2 separate regions of the Homo sapiens genome follow, and region 2 is linked to region 1. Evidence: fine-mapped expression QTL. A gene starts in region 1. The other region holds a variant in brackets. All regions are shown on one strand. Distances are from middle to middle.

Region 1 (8,000 bases):
GGTCGCACATTGACTGAGATGGAAGCTCCAGGGCCCCCTGATAAGCCAGCACAACACAGACCAAAGCCTAGGGGTTAGCAACTGACCCTAAGTGACTCAAGGAGGGTAAGCGCTCTCCCCAGGTGACAACTGCTGACCTACCCATGTCTGCCTGGAAAGCCCTGCTGTCCTGAGCCACCTGTCCACAGTAGGGACAGACCACAGTCCTTAGAGGGCTGGGGCAGAGATAGTTCAAGACTTTCAGCGGCCGGGCACAGTGGCTCACACCTGTAATCCCAGCACTTTGAGAGGCTGAGGCGGGTGGATCACGAGGTCAGATCAAGACCATCCTGGCTAACATGGTGAAACCCCGTCTCTACTAAAAAAAAAAAAATGCAAAAAATTAGGCAGGTGTGGTGGCACACGCCTGTAGTCCCAAATACTCAGGAGGCTAAGGCAGGAGAATAGCTTGAACCCGGGAGGTGGAGGTTGCATTGCAGTGAGCCGAGATTGCACCACTGCACTCCAGCCTGGGTGACAGAGCTAAACTCCGTCTCAAAAAAAAAAAAAAAAAGCTTTAAGCAAACATTTTCCCAAAGAGGCTGTTCTAGCTTTTTCTCCTGCAGTTAAATATGGGTGAACTGATTGGACTCACTTGTCACAGGATGAAACTGTATTTGCTCTAAGGGTGGCAGGCTAGAGATGAGACTCTAGAATAAAGGGTTAAACAGAATGGGGATGACCCAGTTAAATTTTAATTTCAGATAAACAGATGATTTAAGTATGTTCCATGCAATACTAAGGACATCCTGCATTTTTATTTGCTAAATCTGGCAACCCTCTAGAATCTAGTCTTCTAGGTCATTCTAGTCCAACCTTCAAGTTAACAGATCGGGAGAACTTGAGACATGTTAAATGTACTTCTCACAGCCAGTCACTGCCAACATCAGGATTCCAACCTGGTCTGCCTGACTCCACGTTGTGTGCCTGGTATCCCACTAGGAGCCCCAAACTGTCACCTGCTGGATGGGTGGGAGGGTACCGAGCCCCAGTAGGTAGGAGGGGTCCAGGAAGCAGAAATTCCTGGAGGCTGCACTGGACACCGATTACATCTGTGGGCGATTAGCACACGAGCCTTCAGATAATTGCTTTTGCTTTAAGCTGAAGTTTCCCTTTTCCTTCTGATTGCAAAGATCACAGGAGGTTCAGAAAATACAGAAAAGCCCAAAGAAAAGAAAAATAACCACAACAAGTAGCTGGCTGGACCTGTCTTGAGAACCAAAATTCACTGCTCATCCTCATTAGGTTTTATACCTTTCTTACCAAGAAAGTGCTGTTAACTTCTTAAAAGCTAAAAAAGCAAAAGCTGCTCAGAGTAAAAACCCTGTGTTCTTCATTTCAGGGACAGGGAAGGCTTGTTTTGAGAAATGCAGCATCTCCCCCGACCCCCCGACTCCCACACATACCACCGATGGACTCTTGCTGTTGCCCAGGCTAGAGTGCAGTGGTGCGATCTCAGCTCACTGCAACCTCCACCTCCCAGGTTCAAACAGTTCTGCCTCGGCCTCCCAAGTAGCTGGGATCACAGGCGTGAGCCACCGCACCCAGCCAAAATACAGCATTGTTAAGCACTGCTTTTATGCTTTAAAATAACCGTTCTCAGCCGGGGGTGGTGGCTCACGCCTGTAATCCCAGAACTTTGGGAGGCCCAGACGGGCGGATCACAAGGTCAGGAGATGGAGACCCTCCTGGCTAACACGGTGAAACCCTGTCTCTACTAAAAATACCAAAAAACTAGCCGGGCATAGTGGCGGGCGCTTGTAGTCCCAGCTACTCGGGAGGCTGAGGCAGAATGGCATGAACCCAGGAGGCGGAGCTTGCAGTGAGCCCAGATCACGCCACTTATACTCCAGCCTGGGGAATGGAGCGAAGACTCAAAAAAAAAAAAAGCAGGGATGAACTTGTTCCCCTATTTACCAAAGTCAAACTAAGCTCATTTTAGTCAAAGGTTAAAGCAGTACTGGGTGCTAGAGGCAAGAACTGCCAACAGGGAAATGCCTCAGAAAAGGAGGGGGCTTAGCCTGCCTGGGGCAAGGACCTGGAATACTGTTAACAGGATCTGGCTGGGGATGGTGACTCACACCTGTAATCCCAGCACTTTGAGAGGCCGAGGCAGAATTGCTTGAACTGGGACCCACAGATTGAGATCGCACCATTGCGCTCCAGCCTGGGCTACAAACTCCATTTAAAAAAAAAAAACAAGGTCCATTAATTATACTTTTGTACTGGTTTGCTGTGCCTTGTTTTCCTTAACATTTACTCATTACTAACCCAAAGCATAGGATACTCCACATGTGGTCTTCTTAACACAGAAATGCTGACTAAAATCCTTATTTTAAATTTACATGGACCAATCCTGTCAAAAAGCTTCAATGCCGTTAGCAACCCTATCACATATGCAAGACTGCCTGATTTTGATGGCAGAAAAACATCCTCTTCCCTATAGTACCCAACTATCCATCATCAAAGTGACAAACTACACAACTAGCCATCAGCAGTGCCAAGGCCCTCACTTGTCAGCTGACAAACCACCCCCCACCCTCAATCACAGGCAGACAGAGGGAACTGGTAATAGAATTTATTCAAATGTGCCTTAATATAGGCGCTGGGGCTTGCCCATGGTGCTCTTGATATATAAGGCCCGGACATTCTGCCAGTTTTTCTTGAGCAATGACACCAAGAAGTTGACAGCCAGGTGAATGTTATACACAAGCTCATCGTCTGTCATCTTCACGTGACCAACAGCTACAGCCAGACATAACACCTGGGAGGAGGGAAGAGAGGATCAAGTCAGGTTGGTGGACGAATAGCAGATGGCCTGTCCTTCCTCCCCCAGTGGCCTGGTGAGCAGGTACTTGGACCCGGGCCAAGACCAGGGTTACTCCAAAAGTTTCAATCCTGGTGGGTGCTCTTACTGGCATATTTAGAGACTTGGATAAGATTTAGACCCTGCCAACACCTTCACCCATAGCAACCCGCCAGACCCACTCACCTTCTTCATTTGGAACTTGATTGTGGACTTCACCTCATCCACTTTGGCCACCATGTTTTCGTTGTGTGTGAGCAGGGAAGGGAACTTTCCTGCCTTATTTAAACCTGGGCCGAGGATTCGTGGAATCTGCTTGATCAGAGACTCTGAGGCCAAAAACGCATCATACTTCTTGGCTGATAGAGAGAGGAAGCCATTGGCATTGCTTAGAACCTGGTCACCAAGGCACACCTCAAATGTGGCAGGCCAGAAACGCACTTGAATCAATCATGTAAGTGACCTCCAAGCAGCACCCTCTCTAAGACCCCGCCTCAGTCTTTTCCCTAGCCCAAACGGTTTCCAGAAAGTCCTCTGGACCTTCACTGGTCCCAAAACATGCTCTCAGAAAACCAGGCTGACCCATGATCCATGGCATAACCGCTGTACAACGGATGCTCTGGTCAAGACTGCCTGGGCTCGAATTCTGCCTATTTCTTAGCTGTGGACCCTGGACACGTGACAACTGGGAATGTCTGCTTCCTACCTGTAAAAGCAGTCTAATGCCACTGCCTAAACAACGCAGCGTAAAGATTTCCAAATCATAGTTCACCAGCACCTGGCTGGTCAACTTACAATGCCTGGCCTCCCTCATCAACTGGAATCCTCATAGCAATACAAACATCAAACCACCCCAAAGCTAAAACAGCACTCAGGCAAGCTAGGCAACCACCGCCGATCCTTTGCTATTCTAGGCCCCTCATCATTTAAAAATCGAAAATGGCAGAAAAGCCTTTCTACCGCCCCCACCACACATCTCACATGCAAAACCACAGCGGCCGGACTCACCCAGCTTCTTGACCAGTTTTTTATTCTTGTTGAGTTTTTTCAGCGCCTCGATGTCCATGTGGGGGATATCCACGGCCTTAGCCTCGTCACAGTGCTGCTGGTCCCCCAGGACACACACAGAGAACTTAGGGCGGGGAGTGGACTTAAGCCTGCGTTTTGGGGGACAGCACCAACAGGTTACGCCTAGCCCTGGGTCCCAAGGGCCGGTGAAGGGTCTGGGACCGCAGCAGCCACCGAGCCTTACCCGGAGCGTTCACATTCACCAGCAGCCAGCCTGGCTTCTCAGGCTGGCCGGCGGGCTCGGCCGAGGCCTACCCACGCCTCCCCTCATGTTTTAAGACCCAGGGTGGGGGTCCGTCCAGCCGCGCCTGCCCGGAGCAGGGGGTCTGAACTACCCTAGCACATCAGTACCGACGTGCCCGCCTCCGGCTCAGCGGGAGCCTGCAGGGGAGGGGCAAGCACGGGGGCACTGAGGGCTGGGTGGGATCAGAACGGTGCCAACCTGACGGTGCCCGAGAAGCGCTTGTCCTTCTGGGGATCATAGTTCTTCAAGCTGATCTGCAACTCCACCGTCTCCAGGAACCTTCGAGAGAGGAGGGGGGTTAAGCACCCGCCGGCCCTCGCCACCCGCGCCGTGCCCCAGGGTCGGCACTCACTTGCGGCGCTTGCGCTGGTTCCCGTGCAGGACTTCCCGCACCGCCTCGTACAGGGTGTCGCGAGAGACTTTGCTGCTGCGGGAGAGAAGCGACAGGGCGCTCAGGGCCGCGGAGTCCACACGCTCGGACTGCCTGGAAGCCTCCGAGGTCTAGGCTTCGAGACGGGCGGGCGGCCCACGGCGGACTCCCCCGTAGATTCCGGACACCAAGTAGAGCGACGGGAGCTCAGACCCAGACCCAAGCCCCGGTGGAAGAGGGAGGCTCTCAGTGATCGGACCTGGTAGGAAGGGCGACCCGCAGGCCGACCCGCCTTGAGAAATGCCCCGCGGCGCAGGTGGCGCAAGGGTCCGCGGCGCGGCCTACAGGATCCGAACCCTCGGCGGGGCACCTGAAGGCGCGGATGAACGCGGATAGGGCTTTCAGGACCAACTCACCTCATGGCTTCTCACGCCGCGCTAACCGGAAAAGAGACTAGCATGTCTTGCGCATGCGCTCAAATAGTGGCCCTGATCTCGCGATAATGCTTTGCTCCTCGGTCCTACCCGCAGAGCGGTTGGGTGGGCCAACCCCGAGAAGCGCGGCCTTCTCTGGCCGCTGGGGGGCGTCGCTGGGCCGCTAGGCCGGCGCGGTAACCCACAGAGTTGTCGCAGTCCTGAGCGCCCCGCGGTCCCCCGGTAATGTGCCGATTCGCGCCCGCTGCTGCTGGACCCCTAGGGAAGCGGCTGGGTTCGGGGCTCGAGCTTCGGTAGTCACACGTACTGGTACAGCCCAGTGATGTTCACTGACAGCGTGGATTCCGGCACGCTTGTCCCTCAAACCCCTCTCCCCTCGCGCCCTCCGCACCAGCTTATGTTCTCAAAAGGAAGCCTGGCCCGACCTCCCTCCCTCAGCACCTTGCTCTAACGTGGACTCGTGGTAAGGGAAGTGTCCGGAAAGTTCTGTTCCTGTCCTTTCAACGCCTGCAGAGGGGAAGAGCTGGGAAAGTCCTTAAGTGAACTTTCACTTGATAGTTAATTTGATAACATCTACGTTTTAAGTGTGACTGCTATGAATAAGGCGTCTAGCCAGGTGCTACAGGAATACAAGGATGTAAAACAGGCACACAGCACTGCACACCCATAAGGTGTCTTCTCTGCTCTTTCCTCTGTCCAATGGGTCTCATCCTCTTAGCCACAGTAACCCCCAGAGCCCTTCAGATCTCTCCTCGGATTCATCTGCCCAAAACCCTTCCCGAACTCCAGACTGAGTCACTCCCACCTTTAAGATGCCCATTCTCACCTACCCCCCTGCCTGGTGGGGGCAGCTCCTATAGGATGGGGTGGGTGGTATTACACATTATTTGGCCCTCAGAGGGTGAATAAGATACCCTACACCCTTCCCCTCACCAGGAAAAAGATGTTCCTTGTCATTGAGCAGGGAAGTGGAGGGGGTGCGGATGGGCTCAATACCCAGAATTCATGGGAAGGAAGGTACTGCTTCTAATAAGACATTGGCCAGGCGTGGTGGCTCACGCCTGTAATCCCAGCACTTTGGGAGGCAGGCGGATCACCTGAGGTCAGGAGTTTGAGACCAGCCTCGTCTCTACTAAAAATACAAAAATGAGCGGGTCATGGTGGCATGCGCCTGTAATCCCAGCTACTCAAGAGGCTGAGGCAGGAGAATCGCTTGAACTGGGGAGGCAGAGGTTGCAGTGAGCCGAGATCATGCCATTGCATTCCAGCCTGGGCGACAGTGCGAGACTCAGACTCGAAAAAAAAAAAAGAAAAAGACATTATTGAACTTGCTTTTATTCAACACCATTGATAAATTATTCAAGTCAGAAACAAAAACACAGAAGGTCATAATATACATGAGCACAAGAGCTTCATCTGAGCCCACTGGTACCCCAGACCTCCTGGAGCATCCCATGCCCACTCTGGGTCGGCTTGATCCTACTGAGCCCTATCGGAAAGTTTGTCCCTGCAGCCTGAGAATTGATGAGGAGTGTGCCTGGGGCCAGCAGCCTTTGGAAATATAGCTCTGGCCTGGTGTGGTGGCTCACACCTGTAAATCTCAACACTTTGGGTGCCAAGGCAGGAAGATCACTTGAGCTCAGGAGTTCAAGACCAGCCCTGACCAGCATATTATCTACAAAATAAAAAATTAGCTGGGCATAGTGTCATGTGCATGTAGTCCCAGCTACTTGGGAGGCTGACATGGGAGGATCGAGCCTGGGAGGCAGAGGTTACAGTGAGCCATGATCAATCGCATCACTGCACTCCAGCCTGGATGACAGAGCAATACCTTCTCTCAAAAACAAAAGAAATGAAAAAGAAAATATAGCTGAGCTCCCTTAGCCCAGGAGCCTCCCTGCTGGCTGGGAAGCCAATATTCCCTATGCAGCCTGTAACAGGGAGGCAGTTGCAATCTGGGATGGCCAGGCTCAGCCTTTATCCTCAGGCTAGGGCTCAAGACAAGGTGGTGAAGAAAGAAATGCCCTTCAGGAAGCTGGTGATGGAGCACCAAGAGGGTGGTCCCTTGGTGGATGGTCAGGGGCCCAAATGTTTCAAGGCGGCCTTCAGGGACTTCCTCAGGAAGGTGGTGTTAGGTTCTAGGGCCATAGCCAGGCCCAGCCTCTGGGTCTCAGTGATCTGGGGAGAAGGAAAAATCATGTCAGGACTCCAGCAACTGATCCCTCCCGTCTCCCGACTACCCCAGGGGCTCTATTGAGGAGAGAGGAGGCCAGGAGGATGGAAAGAGGAGGAGACTCCTGAGCAATCTAATCTCATTATTTCACCATGGTTAACGAGGTAGACCTGGAGCCAAATACTAGCTGCACAATTTACTAAGCCGGCCACATTAGTAACAGTTGACAATCATTGTGTGTTTACTATGTGGCAGCACTTTATATGCATCAATCCATATACAAACATACATATACATCATATATATGCATTGCTGTATATAATCCTCAAGACCCTCCCATTTTACAGAGGAGAAAACTGAGGTTCACAGACACTCTACTGTGACAGCTACCTTCCTTTTGGATCACACTTTCTCTTTCTGCCCTGTTGCTACAACCTCCTGACAGGTCTCAGGCCCTGTATCTTCACCCTCCAATCCCACTCCTCACAGAAGCCAGATGCTTCTTAATAGTACAGATCTGATGAAGTTACTCCCAGGTTGAAGGCCCTTGAATGACTCCTGATGCCTCACATTGGAGGTCCTTCTGCCTAGATCTCCAGAGGATTCAGGAGCTCCCCTGAAACTGTGCAACAGAAGCATGTTCATACTTCCATCTTTCTGGGAGGGTCTACATCAAATCATCAAATGGGCCTGTAACACCCCCGACATAAGGGTACAAAGGCAATAGCCCAGAATACCTGACTTTCAAGATAAAGTTAAAAATAAAGCTCCTGGCTGGGCACCATGGTTCATGCCTGTAATCCCAGCACTTTGGGAGGCCGAGGCAGGTGGATCATGTGAGGTCAGGCATTGGAGACCAGCCTGGC
Region 2 (10,363 bases), 48 kb after region 1:
CGAGTCCTAGGGGCAGAATTGGGTGTGCTGCTTCCTCCAACCACCAATCCCCCCTCCTTCTCTTGAGACTTGCTCCTCTTCAGTGAGGTGGGGGCCCACCTGGAGGGAACCCTGCCTACTTCCAAGCTGGGAGAGTGCCGTCCAGCGGCCAGTGCAGGGGGCCATCAGCAACATTGGCCTGGCAAACCAGTGTGAAGATGGAAGGACACTGGGTGTCAGTGGGGCTGAGGTGTGCTGCTGGAGCAGGATCAGTTGGGTCAGTGGGTGGCCTCAGCATCGGAGGGGCAATGACAGTCTTGGGGAGGCATCTGGCTCTCAGCCTGGGGCCTCCTGCCCACTGTCCTTTGCAGCAGGGACCCCATGACTATAGGGGGCTGCAGTCAGTCCAGGCCATGCTTAGCCTTCCCTGGAACCCAGGCCCAGAGAGCTTAGTGTTTCTTTGGATGGCTCAAGTCTTTTGCTCTGAAGACAGGAGACAGAAGTGAGGACCTAAGCCTGCAGGTGCAATGATGGGGCAGAGGGCAGGCCCCACTCTCTTCTGCTCCTGGGGAAAAGGTGTGCAAAAGCAGAGGTCCTGTTCTATGCTGCTGGTGAAATAATACAAAACATCTCACAGAATAAGAAAGGAGGACAGACGTGGGGGGTGGAGAGAGAAAGGGAGGGCAAGGGAGAAGGGAAGAGAGAAACCTACAGAAAGGAAGAAACAGAGCAACAGGAATTAGAAAAGAAAGAGGAACTGAGAAAGAGGGAGACAACAAAGACAGGAAGAGAGCTGGCTGGAGGAAGCGGGAGAGAGGGCACAGGGAGCCAGAGGCCGTGGGTGTCATGTGTCTGAGGGCGATCGTGGGACTCTGCTGCTCCAGGCCGGGTGCTCAAGGGCTGGTCAATGGAAAAGTCATGTGGGTGGGCCCCTCCAGTGCTGGCCCCATTGGAGTCTGCAGGGAGGCCTGGGTGCCGCCGTTAGTACATGTCCTTGTAGATCTCCTGGAGCAGAGGGTGCAGCGAGGTCTCGGTTTCGGTCTTCTTGATCCGCTGCATCATCTGGGCGTGCTCGGTGACCAGTTGCCGCAGGTCAGCCATCTTCTGCAGCAGCTTGGGGAAGAGGTACTGGGCATCAGGGTGGTTGGCCTGCAGGTGGAATTCGAGGGCACGCAGGATGGTGTCCTGGATAGCCTCCACCCGTGGAACGTTCATGAGGCCTGGCCGGTCTGTGGGGACACAGGGCACGCCAGGGAGCTCAGAAAGGCAGTGGAGCTCCCCTACTTCCACCCCAAGAGGTGACTTGGCCCAGGGGACGGCAGGCCTCCTTGGCCGTGACAGACCAAGCCCTGTCCCATCAGCAATGCTCCACTGGGTGTTCTAATCTCCCTACCCCTGGTCTTAATCCACTTCTTTTGTTTTTTGCCAATTTGTCCCCACCTCCCCCCCGATTAGGCAACGTAGTATTGTGGTTAAGAGACTCAATGCTTAATTCAAATCCTGTGTCTGCCTGTGAGGCTATAGGCAGGTCATTCAGCCTCTCTGATGTGTAAAATGGAGACACAAAACATTCTTCCTGCACAGGGTTGTTGTGAGGATCAAGTGAGTCATCATCGATGAAAAGAACAGTGCCTGGCATGAAGTAAGCTCTAGACCACTGTTAGTTAGCATAGTTATTATTGTATTTATTGTGTTGGAATTTTAAAAATGCAGAAAAAATGCAGACAATTTTTCCACCCCACATTAACATGACAGCATACTGCCTGTTAGTCCTTTTCCTTTTTTTTGAGACAGGGTCTCACTCTGTCACCCAGGCTGGAGTGCAGTGGTGGGATTTTGGCTCACTGCAACCTCCACCTCTCGGGTTCAAGCGATTCTCCTGGCTCAGCCTCCCAAGTAGCTGGGATTACAGGCGCGTGCCACCACATCTGGCTAATTTTTTGTATTTTTAGTAGAGACGGGGTTTCACCATGTTGGCCAGGCTGGTTTCGAACTCCTGACCTCAAGTGATCCACCCGCCTCGGCCTGCCAAAGTGCTGGGATTACAGGTGTGAGCCACCACGTCTGGCTTAGTCTTTTTCCTGTCTCCACCTCTATCTACGTACATAATGAGATGGAGCTGATCCTGCATGCTCAGTCAGTGCCTTGCATGTTCCACTGCCAAGATCACAGGGACACTTCCCCACACTGTCAGAGCTCAGGCACAGTGCCCTGCAGTGAGGGCCAACCCCCAGGACGACTGGGTGTGCCAGGCCAGCCCACCTGCCCCACTCTCACTCACCTCCACACAGAATGATGGCCGCAATGAATAGGGCCAGGTCACTGTCATCAAGTTCCAGGGCGTTGAACTTGACAGCAAATTCAAACTTAGGCTCAATGATATCACTGAAGGGTTTGCGGAGGCTGCGCAGGAACTCACGGGTGACAAAGCCACTGCCGTTGGCTACCAGCAGCCCGTCCTTGTTGACGATAGAGGCCAGCATGGCGAAGATGGCCTCGTGCACGCCATACTTGAGAAGGGTAACCTGGTCGTTGAGGAAGAGGCTGCTGAAGCTGGGGATGCTCTTGGCGAACTCAGTGAGCTCCCGCACGGTCTCCACTGTGGTGCACTGGCAGCGGTAGAAGACGTGCACGCTGATCTCCTTGTAGGGAGGCAGGCCATTCACCAACTGCTTCCACACCAGCCCCTTCTCTGCCTGCCACAATGTCTCGATGTCGTGGATCACAAAGGGCTGAAAACCAGGCCCCGTTAGAGATCAGGCCTCGGGAGACCCCCACCCTGTGCTCCCCATGTCCCTTGCCTGCACCATGAAGTTGAGGGAGGGAGAAGGCCTGGCTCTCCCGGAGTCAGGCAGGCGGCAGTGGGACCCAGAGCCCAGGATGCTGCCAGGCCAAGCAGCAGCAACACTCACCGCCGTGTGGCTGGCTTTGCCGGTGAGGATGCTGCGGGCCTTCTTTTTGGTCATGTTGAAGTTTTTCAGGTAGGCATTGTAGATGTGCTTGGAGAAGGCCTTCAGGTCGGCCACCTGTGGGTTGTACTGGCTCCCCTCGTTTGCAGTCAGCCCTGCCACCAGCTTCCTCTTCTCAGCCTCCGGCATCCGACCAAAACGGATAGCTGCACAGGGAAGGGGGCAGTCAGCAAGGAGCCCAGGCAGGCCCCAGCACCTCTGACATCCCCATCCCTTTACAGGTGCATGGGCCAAATCCTTTTGGAGCCTAAGGCCCCCAGAAGCTCTAGAGTCAGCAAGGTAGGAATGATGGGGTGGCCCCTCCAGATCGCAAGCTCCACAAGATGTGATTTTTTTTTTTTTTTGGTGTATCTTTGCAAGAGCAGTGATTTTGTCTGTTTTGTTCACAGTGCCCAGCACACAAGGACTCTAACTTACTGAGTGACTGAGCTACGCTAGCTGGGGTAAGACAGACTTTGGTGACAAAGGCCTGGGCTTGAGTTCCAGCTCAGCAGTTTACTAGCTTTGTGACTTGGGGCAGACTCCTTCACTTTTCTTTTTCTTTTCTTTTTTTTTTTTTGAGACAGAGTCTCGCTCTGTCTCCCAGGCTGGAGTGCAGTGGCACGATCTCGGCTCACTGCAACCTCTGCCTCCCGGGTTCAAGCAATTCTCTGTCTCAGCCTCCCGAGTAGCTGGGATTATAGGCGCCCACCACCATGCCTGGCTAATTTTTGTATTTTTTTTTTAGTAGAGACAGAGTTTCACCATCTTGGCCAGGCTGGTCTTGAACTGCTGACCTCAGGTGATCCACTCGCCTTGGCCTCCCAAAGTGCTAGGATTATAGGCATGTGCCACCATGCCCAGCCTTTTTCTTTTTTTGTTTTGAGACAGGGTCTCACTCTCATCCAGGCTGGAGTACAGTGGCACAATCATGGCTCACTGCAGCCTTGACCTCCTGGGCTAAAGTGATCCTCCCGCCTCAGCCTTCTGAGTAGCTGGGACTACAGGTGCACGCCACCAAGCCTGGCTAAATTTTTTTTTTTTTTTTTTTTTTTTTTGTAGAGATGAGGTCTCACTATGTTGCTCAGGCTGGTCTTAAACTCCTGGACTCAAGCAATCCTCCTACCTTGGCCTCCCAAAGTGATGGGATTACAGGTGTGAGCCACTGCACCTGGCCACTTTTCTTTTTTAATCAGAAAAATGAGGCTAATACTTTTTAAAACTTACTGAGTTATTAGATCAATTAAATAAGAATCCTCACATAGTAAGCACTCAAAAATTGTTGTCATTAGTAATTGAGTAGGATACGAATTCGACTTCTCCTGGAGTTAGCGTAAGGAGAGGGATTCAGTCAGTTCCGAGATTTCCTAAGAAAGGAGTCAAACCCAGACCTGCCAGACCCCATTACCCAGGAGAGCCGCAAATGGAGGGCTCAGGTACTGCTACCCTCTAAGATGCAAGGCAGTTAGGGCATCCCTGGGTAAAAGCTGGCCAAGCAGCTAACCTGCCTGTAGAGATCACAAGAGGCTCTCCCCTGTCCTCTAGGGGTCTTACTCAGAGAGGTACTGAGGGGACAGGTGGGCTTTGCAATATCCTACCCTGGGGTCCGAAGACAAGGCTCTGCAGGAGGCCTGGAGCACAGGGCAGAGAAGGCTCTGTCTCCTGGGAGTGGGTGACCTCCAAGAAACTTCTGCCTGGCTCCTGGCAGTTGACAAATGTGGTTACTTACTGGTTACTGCCTGCCTTCTATAACCAAGAAGGGCCACCTGGCCTTGGCAGTAGCTTTCATGCTGTGTCAGGTCATCTGAGACAGGCTTGAGTTTCTGGGACTGGTGTTCCCCAAATTGTTCAAGCTGGTATCAATTATCAGTTCCCTTCTGGGCCAGAATGCGTAAACCTCAGGTATAGGGAGGTAAACACTACCCCACGCCTGGGACCCATGGTAGATGCTGGCAGTCTGAGGAAGTGGCAGGTCTTAGGCTCTAAGATCCAAGGTCCAGATCAGCAAAGCCAACAGCCAACAGCCATGGTGCTTACTGTGCGCCAGGCACTGCTCTACAGGTGCCCCCTCTAGGCTGCCCCAAGGGCTCCCTGGACCTTGGTTTCAGGCTGTGTGGAGCCAGCAGCCCGTGAGTTGCCCTGGTCAGCTCTCACCGTTGTGTGACATGCCCAGTGCCAGGCACTTCTGGAAGCGGCAGTACTGGCACTTGTTGCGGTTCTTCTTCTGAATCTTGCAGCTGCGCTCACACTTCTCGTACTCCAGCTTCATGCGGATCGTACGACGGAAGAAGCCCTGAAGCACCAAGAACAGGTGAGGAAAGGCCACCAGGAGGTGGGAGGGAGGCTGTGCCAAAGGGCCCGATTATGTATAAGGTGTAAACACTCCTGACATTTGGAAGTAACGAGAAGAAATTTTTTTGGAGGGGAGATGGAGAAGGAAAGTAATTCTAAAACTTTAATTAAAACTATTTTAGTTCAGGCACAGTGGCTCACGCCTGTAATCCCAGCACTTTGAGAGGCCGAGGTGGGCGGATCACCTGAGGTCAGGAGTTTGAGACCAGCCTGGCCAACATGGTGAAACCCCGTCTCTACTAAAAATACAGAAAAATTAGCTGGGTGTAGTGGCACACCCCTGTAATCCCAGCTACTCAGGAGGCTGAGGCAGGGGAATCGCTTGAACCCGGGAGGTGGAGGTTGCAGTCAGCCAAGATCGCGCCATTACACTCCAGCCTGGACAACAAGAGTGAAACTCCATCTCAAAACAAAACAAAACAAAATAAAACAAAACAAAACAAAAAAAAAACACAACTATTTTAAATGTCTAAAGAAGTCCTAAAGCTTCTTTGTTGGGGCTGGACACAGTGGCTCACGCCTGTAATCCCAGCACTTTGGGAGGCCGAGGTGGGTGGATCACCTGAGGTCAGGAGTTCAAGACCAGCCTAGCCAACATGGTGAAACCCCGTCCCTATTAAAACTACAAAAATTGGGTCAGGCACAGTGGTTCACACCTGTAATCCTAGCACTTTGGGAGGCCAAGGCAGGTGGATCACCTGAGGTCAGGAGTTCGAGACCAGCCTGGCCAATGTGGTGAAACCCCATCTCTACTAAAAATACAAAAATTAGCCAGGCATGGTGGCATGTACCTGTAATCCCAGCTACTCTGGAGGCTCAGGCAGGAGAATCTCCTGAACCCGGGAGGTGGAGGTTGCAGTTAACTGAGATCACGCCACTGCACTCCAGCCTGGGCGACAGATCGAGATTCCATCTCAAAAAAAAAAAAAAAAAAAAAAAAAGCTTCTTTGTTAGTTTGGTAACATAAGATTGTCTCACGGCTAACTTGATTTCTTCATAAATGTATCTGGTTCTGTGTATTTGTGAGGTGGTGATTCAATAAAATAATCTGTGAGATT[T/C]TGATGGGTGTGAAGTTAGGAAGGACCCACAAATATCACTGGAAAAACAAATGTCTGTCCTTTTTTCTCAGAGCCCGCTTTGAGCCTTGAGAAACAAGAAACCCAGACCTCAGGTAAGACGATGGCTCAGCCCAAGACCCTCATTCTGCCCTAGCTGCCTGGTCCCCAGGGGGACACAATCACCCACAGAGCTGGGTCAACACAGGTGCCCAGCAGGGTAGGCTTGACAAGGGAACCCCCTCTTCTCCTGCAGTGCCCAGAGCTGAGGTCTGGAGCACAAGGGCCTGGCTGCCTCCTGGGCAGGAATTCTGCAATAGGTACAGTCAGGGCCCCACCCCAAGGCAAGGAAAGCTTTGTGGAGGGTCAATTCACCATGTGACCACAGCCTCAGTGGCCAGCCACCGCTCCCCCCAGTCCGTACCTTGCACCCCTCACATGCATGAACACCGTAGTGGAAGCCCGATGCCTTGTCCCCGCACACCCGGCACTCCATGTTGAGGCTGCCGCATGAGGCCCCGTCACAGCCCATCTGCAGTTGGTCCAGCAGTGAGGGTGGCGAGGAGCTCCGGGAGAGGTCTGCGGACACACGATGGAGGGGCAGCTCCACATGCTGCCAGGCCTGGAAGCCAGGGCGTGGGAACAGCCCCACAGCCCTCGCCTCAGCCACTTAACAGCTGTGTGGCCTCAGGGAGTCAACCTTTCTGAGGACCAGTTTCTTCACCTAGAACAGGGGGTACTGACAGCTTCTCTGGGAGGATGGGCAAAAAGTCTCCACAGCATTTCTCCCAGAGCCTAACATACAGAAGATGTCCAGTACACAGCAGCTATTACCATCAGGGCTGGGTCAGAGGCTTCCTGGGCTGAACTCACCATGGGGTAGCAGTGGGGAGGAGGATGGCTGTGTTTTGGGAGGAAAGCAAGAGAGAGAAAGCAGACAGAGGGTCTTAGCCCTTAGGAAGCAGCTCTCCTGGTTCAGAGGTTGCCACCGTGTGGCCCATATGGAGATGTGTGCAACGTGTTTTGCAGAAACTGCAGGACTGTAGACCTCTGCAGAGCTAGCCTCCCCACCATCCCCCACAGGAAGTTCTATTCTTGCATAGACTCCAGGGATGCTGTAAACAATCTCTTCAAGAAGCTCAAGTTCATTCCCATGAAAACTTCTTGAGTAGAACAGCTTAGGTATCAGTCATATTGATTAAGCAACACACTGAATTTCTCCAAGTTTTTCTATCAGACGTATAGATGTTTGAACCACGGGGTGTTGAGTGTGTTGGCGAGAAAGGCAGTTTGCTAAGGCTATGACTTCAGGATATATCTGCTGTCAGATGATTTCATAAGAACTGCTAGGATTCTCTTCCCAGTGCCCTTTGGACACTCGGAAATGATCTCTTCATCTTGGAAAGGGGACCTGAACTGAGTCTCAGCTTCCTGACTCCTAGCCCAAAGCTGGTTTCATGGCCCCACATACCAGCTGTCCTACCTCTGCCATGATGACCGTCCAACCTCTGCACTCTTCTCTAATGACTGAGCAACCTCCCCAAAAGCAGGTGCCAAACCTCCAAACCAGAGAATCAGCCATTTTGAGTAGAAGGGGATGTTGGGGGACCGAAGCCACAGAGATAAACCCAGGCTAATGTTTTCCAGGCCTGTGGTAATACCTGTCTACTACACAGGCCAAGCAACTTTGATTTCCCCACCATGGGAGTACCTATCCACCTGCTACCAATCAAAGTGCACTCCATCCTTCCCACATGGTCTCCCCACTCCCCCAGCTTCCCCTTGGGTCCTAGGAGTGGCAGCAGGAAAGCCTGCTTCCCCTATCCTGACCACAGGAGGGGGAGCACAAGAAGCACCCAACTGTGGCAGAGAGGACCCAGTGGGCTGCTCCCCTCCTGGCTGGTGAGGTTTAGGGGTAACACAAGTCTCTGGTTCCTAAAATGGCCTGTCTTGTCCTGGCACCTTAGCTCCCAACTTCAGTCATTCCAAGGTGTTGTAACTGTTCCTCTTGACCCAGACTGGGACAGTGGGCTCCCTACATCTCTCGGGCCTGGGAGGGAAAAGCTGTGCTCTGGGAGGGTGAAGCCGCTTTGGTCTTCTCAGTAGCCTTTGTCACCGCCTGACATATCCTGTGTGTGTTCATTGTTGGAAGCCACCCACTAGACAAAAGGGCCACAAGGGCAGGAACTTTGTCCACCAGGGCACCAGCGTGGTCAGACACTGAGAGCTGTGTGAGGTGCTGGGCACGCAGCAGGCACGCGATAGCTCTCTGCACATCTGGCAGTCCTCAGGCTGCCTGGGTGTCCTGACTGCAGCACCAACTGGCTGATGGGGCTGGGCAGGACCTGCCACTCCTGGAGGCATTTATAACAGGGACAATAAAACTCACAGCACCGGATGTTGGAAGAAAAAGAGATAACATGACAGAAACCCTTTGTGGATGCCTGTGCAGATGCTGGGGCAGGCAGGGTTTCTGGCACTTCCTCCTTGAATCTGTGCAGTCCGTGAGCATATGCTCGTGTTGGGGCATTTCTTGTAATTTTGTCTTTGTGGCCTGCACGTCTGCTTCCTCTGCGAGACTCTGCATGTCTCTACTCACGTTCCCTTTGGATCTCTGAGCTCACTTCCACCACCGAGTCTTGTCCACAGTGGCCAATACCCTCAGATTATTCACACCTCCTGGAGGTGCCTTTCTCATCCTCCCTGTGGCCATGGAAGGTCAGCAGGTGTCTAGTCATTTGGTTTCTGTTGGCACTGCACGTGACAATGTCACCCTCTGTGTTCACTCAAAAGACACATGATAAGCACCTTCTATATGCAGGACAGGACCTAGACTCTATCCTCAAATAGCTGAGGTAAGAAAGAGGTAACAGCAGGGCTGGGTGTGGTGGCTCACGCCTGTAATCCCAGCACTTTGGGAGGCCGACGCGGGCGGATCACGAGGTCAAGAGATTGAAACCATCCTGGCCAACATGGTGAAACCCCATCTCTACTAAAAATACAAAAATTAGCTGGGCGTGGTGGCACATGCCTGTAGTCCCAGCTACTCGGGAGGCTAAGGAAGGAGAATCACTTGAACCCGGGGGCAGGGGGGCGGAGGCTGCAGTGAGCTGAGATCGCGCCATTGCACTCGGCTGAGTGTGGTGGCTCACGCCAGTAATCGCAGTACTTTGGGAGGCCAAGGCAGGAGGATTACCTGAGGCCAGGAGCAACATAGTGAGACCCTGTCTCTATAAAAAGTAAAAAAAAAAAAATAGTTGGGTGTCGTGGCACCTGCCTATAGTGCCAGCTACTGAGGAGGCTGAGGCAGGAAAATCCTTGAGCCTAGGAGAGCTGTGATTGTGCCATCGTATACCAGCCTGGGTGATAAAGCAAGACTGTCTCTACTTAAAAAAAACAAAAGGCCAGGTGCAGTGGCTCACACCTGTGATCCCAACACTTTGGGAGGCTGAGGCGGGAGGATCACTTGAGCCCAGGAGTTTGAGACCAGCCTGGGCAACATAGTGAGACCCTGTCTCTATCTCTATAAAAAATTTTAAAAACTAGCTGGGTGTGGTGGCACATGCCTGTAGTCCCAGATACTTGGGAGGCTGAGGTGGGAGGATTGCCTGAATGTGGGAAGATGACTTGAGCCTGGGAGGTCCAGGTTGCAGTGAGCTGTGATTGCACCACTGTACTCCAGCCTGTGGTGACAGAACAAGACCTTGTCTCAAAAAAATAAATAAACAAATAAATAAACAAGAAAAACAAGGAAAGGTAAGGTGTAACTTAACCTACTGTAACTCACTTGTGCCTACAGGAAAAAAATAAAATAGAAAAAAAAAGAGAAAGAGATAAGAAAACTAGAACATGAGACAGAGTGGAGCAACGCCAGGTAAGGGGCAGTAAGAAGTGCAGGATATTGGAAGGAGCCATCACTCACGCATGTGACTGTCACGGAAGGGGACTGCTTCCCTCTCTGCTGAAAGAAAGGTGATGGCAGAATTCTTCTCATACTAGGGGCTGGGTTCTGAAGGTTCCACCACTTCC

The links.
Region 2: its variant is fine-mapped to the expression of RPL10A in whole blood (TOPMed, PIP 0.99).

Annotation. Positions count from the first base shown.
Region 1 is chr6:35,465,383-35,473,382 of GRCh38, reverse strand. It overlaps RPL10A (ribosomal protein L10a), which reads right to left and starts at 4,982. Exons shown (of 6, transcript NM_007104.5): 1 at 4,944-4,982; 2 at 4,510-4,584; 3 at 4,356-4,436; 4 at 3,854-4,002; 5 at 3,032-3,204; 6 at 2,603-2,803. The coding sequence starts at 4,948. The coding sequence ends at 2,633. It overlaps FANCE (FA complementation group E), which reads right to left. Exons shown (of 10, transcript NM_021922.3): 10 at 6,281-7,139. The coding sequence ends at 7,038. MIR7111 (microRNA 7111) reads right to left here and starts at 2,875; the gene lies at 2,804-2,875. RefSeq lists enhancers at 4,253-4,352, 4,413-4,482, 4,660-5,216, 5,493-5,542.
Region 2 is chr6:35,416,677-35,427,039 of GRCh38, reverse strand. PPARD (peroxisome proliferator activated receptor delta) reads right to left here. Exons shown (of 8, transcript NM_006238.5): 4 at 6,759-6,913; 5 at 5,082-5,220; 6 at 2,892-3,094; 7 at 2,261-2,711; 8 at 1-1,208. The coding sequence ends at 961. Among named protein-coding and RNA genes, the nearest start is that of FANCE, 30 kb to the left of the region's middle. The variant T/C (reference allele first, on the strand shown) is at 6,338.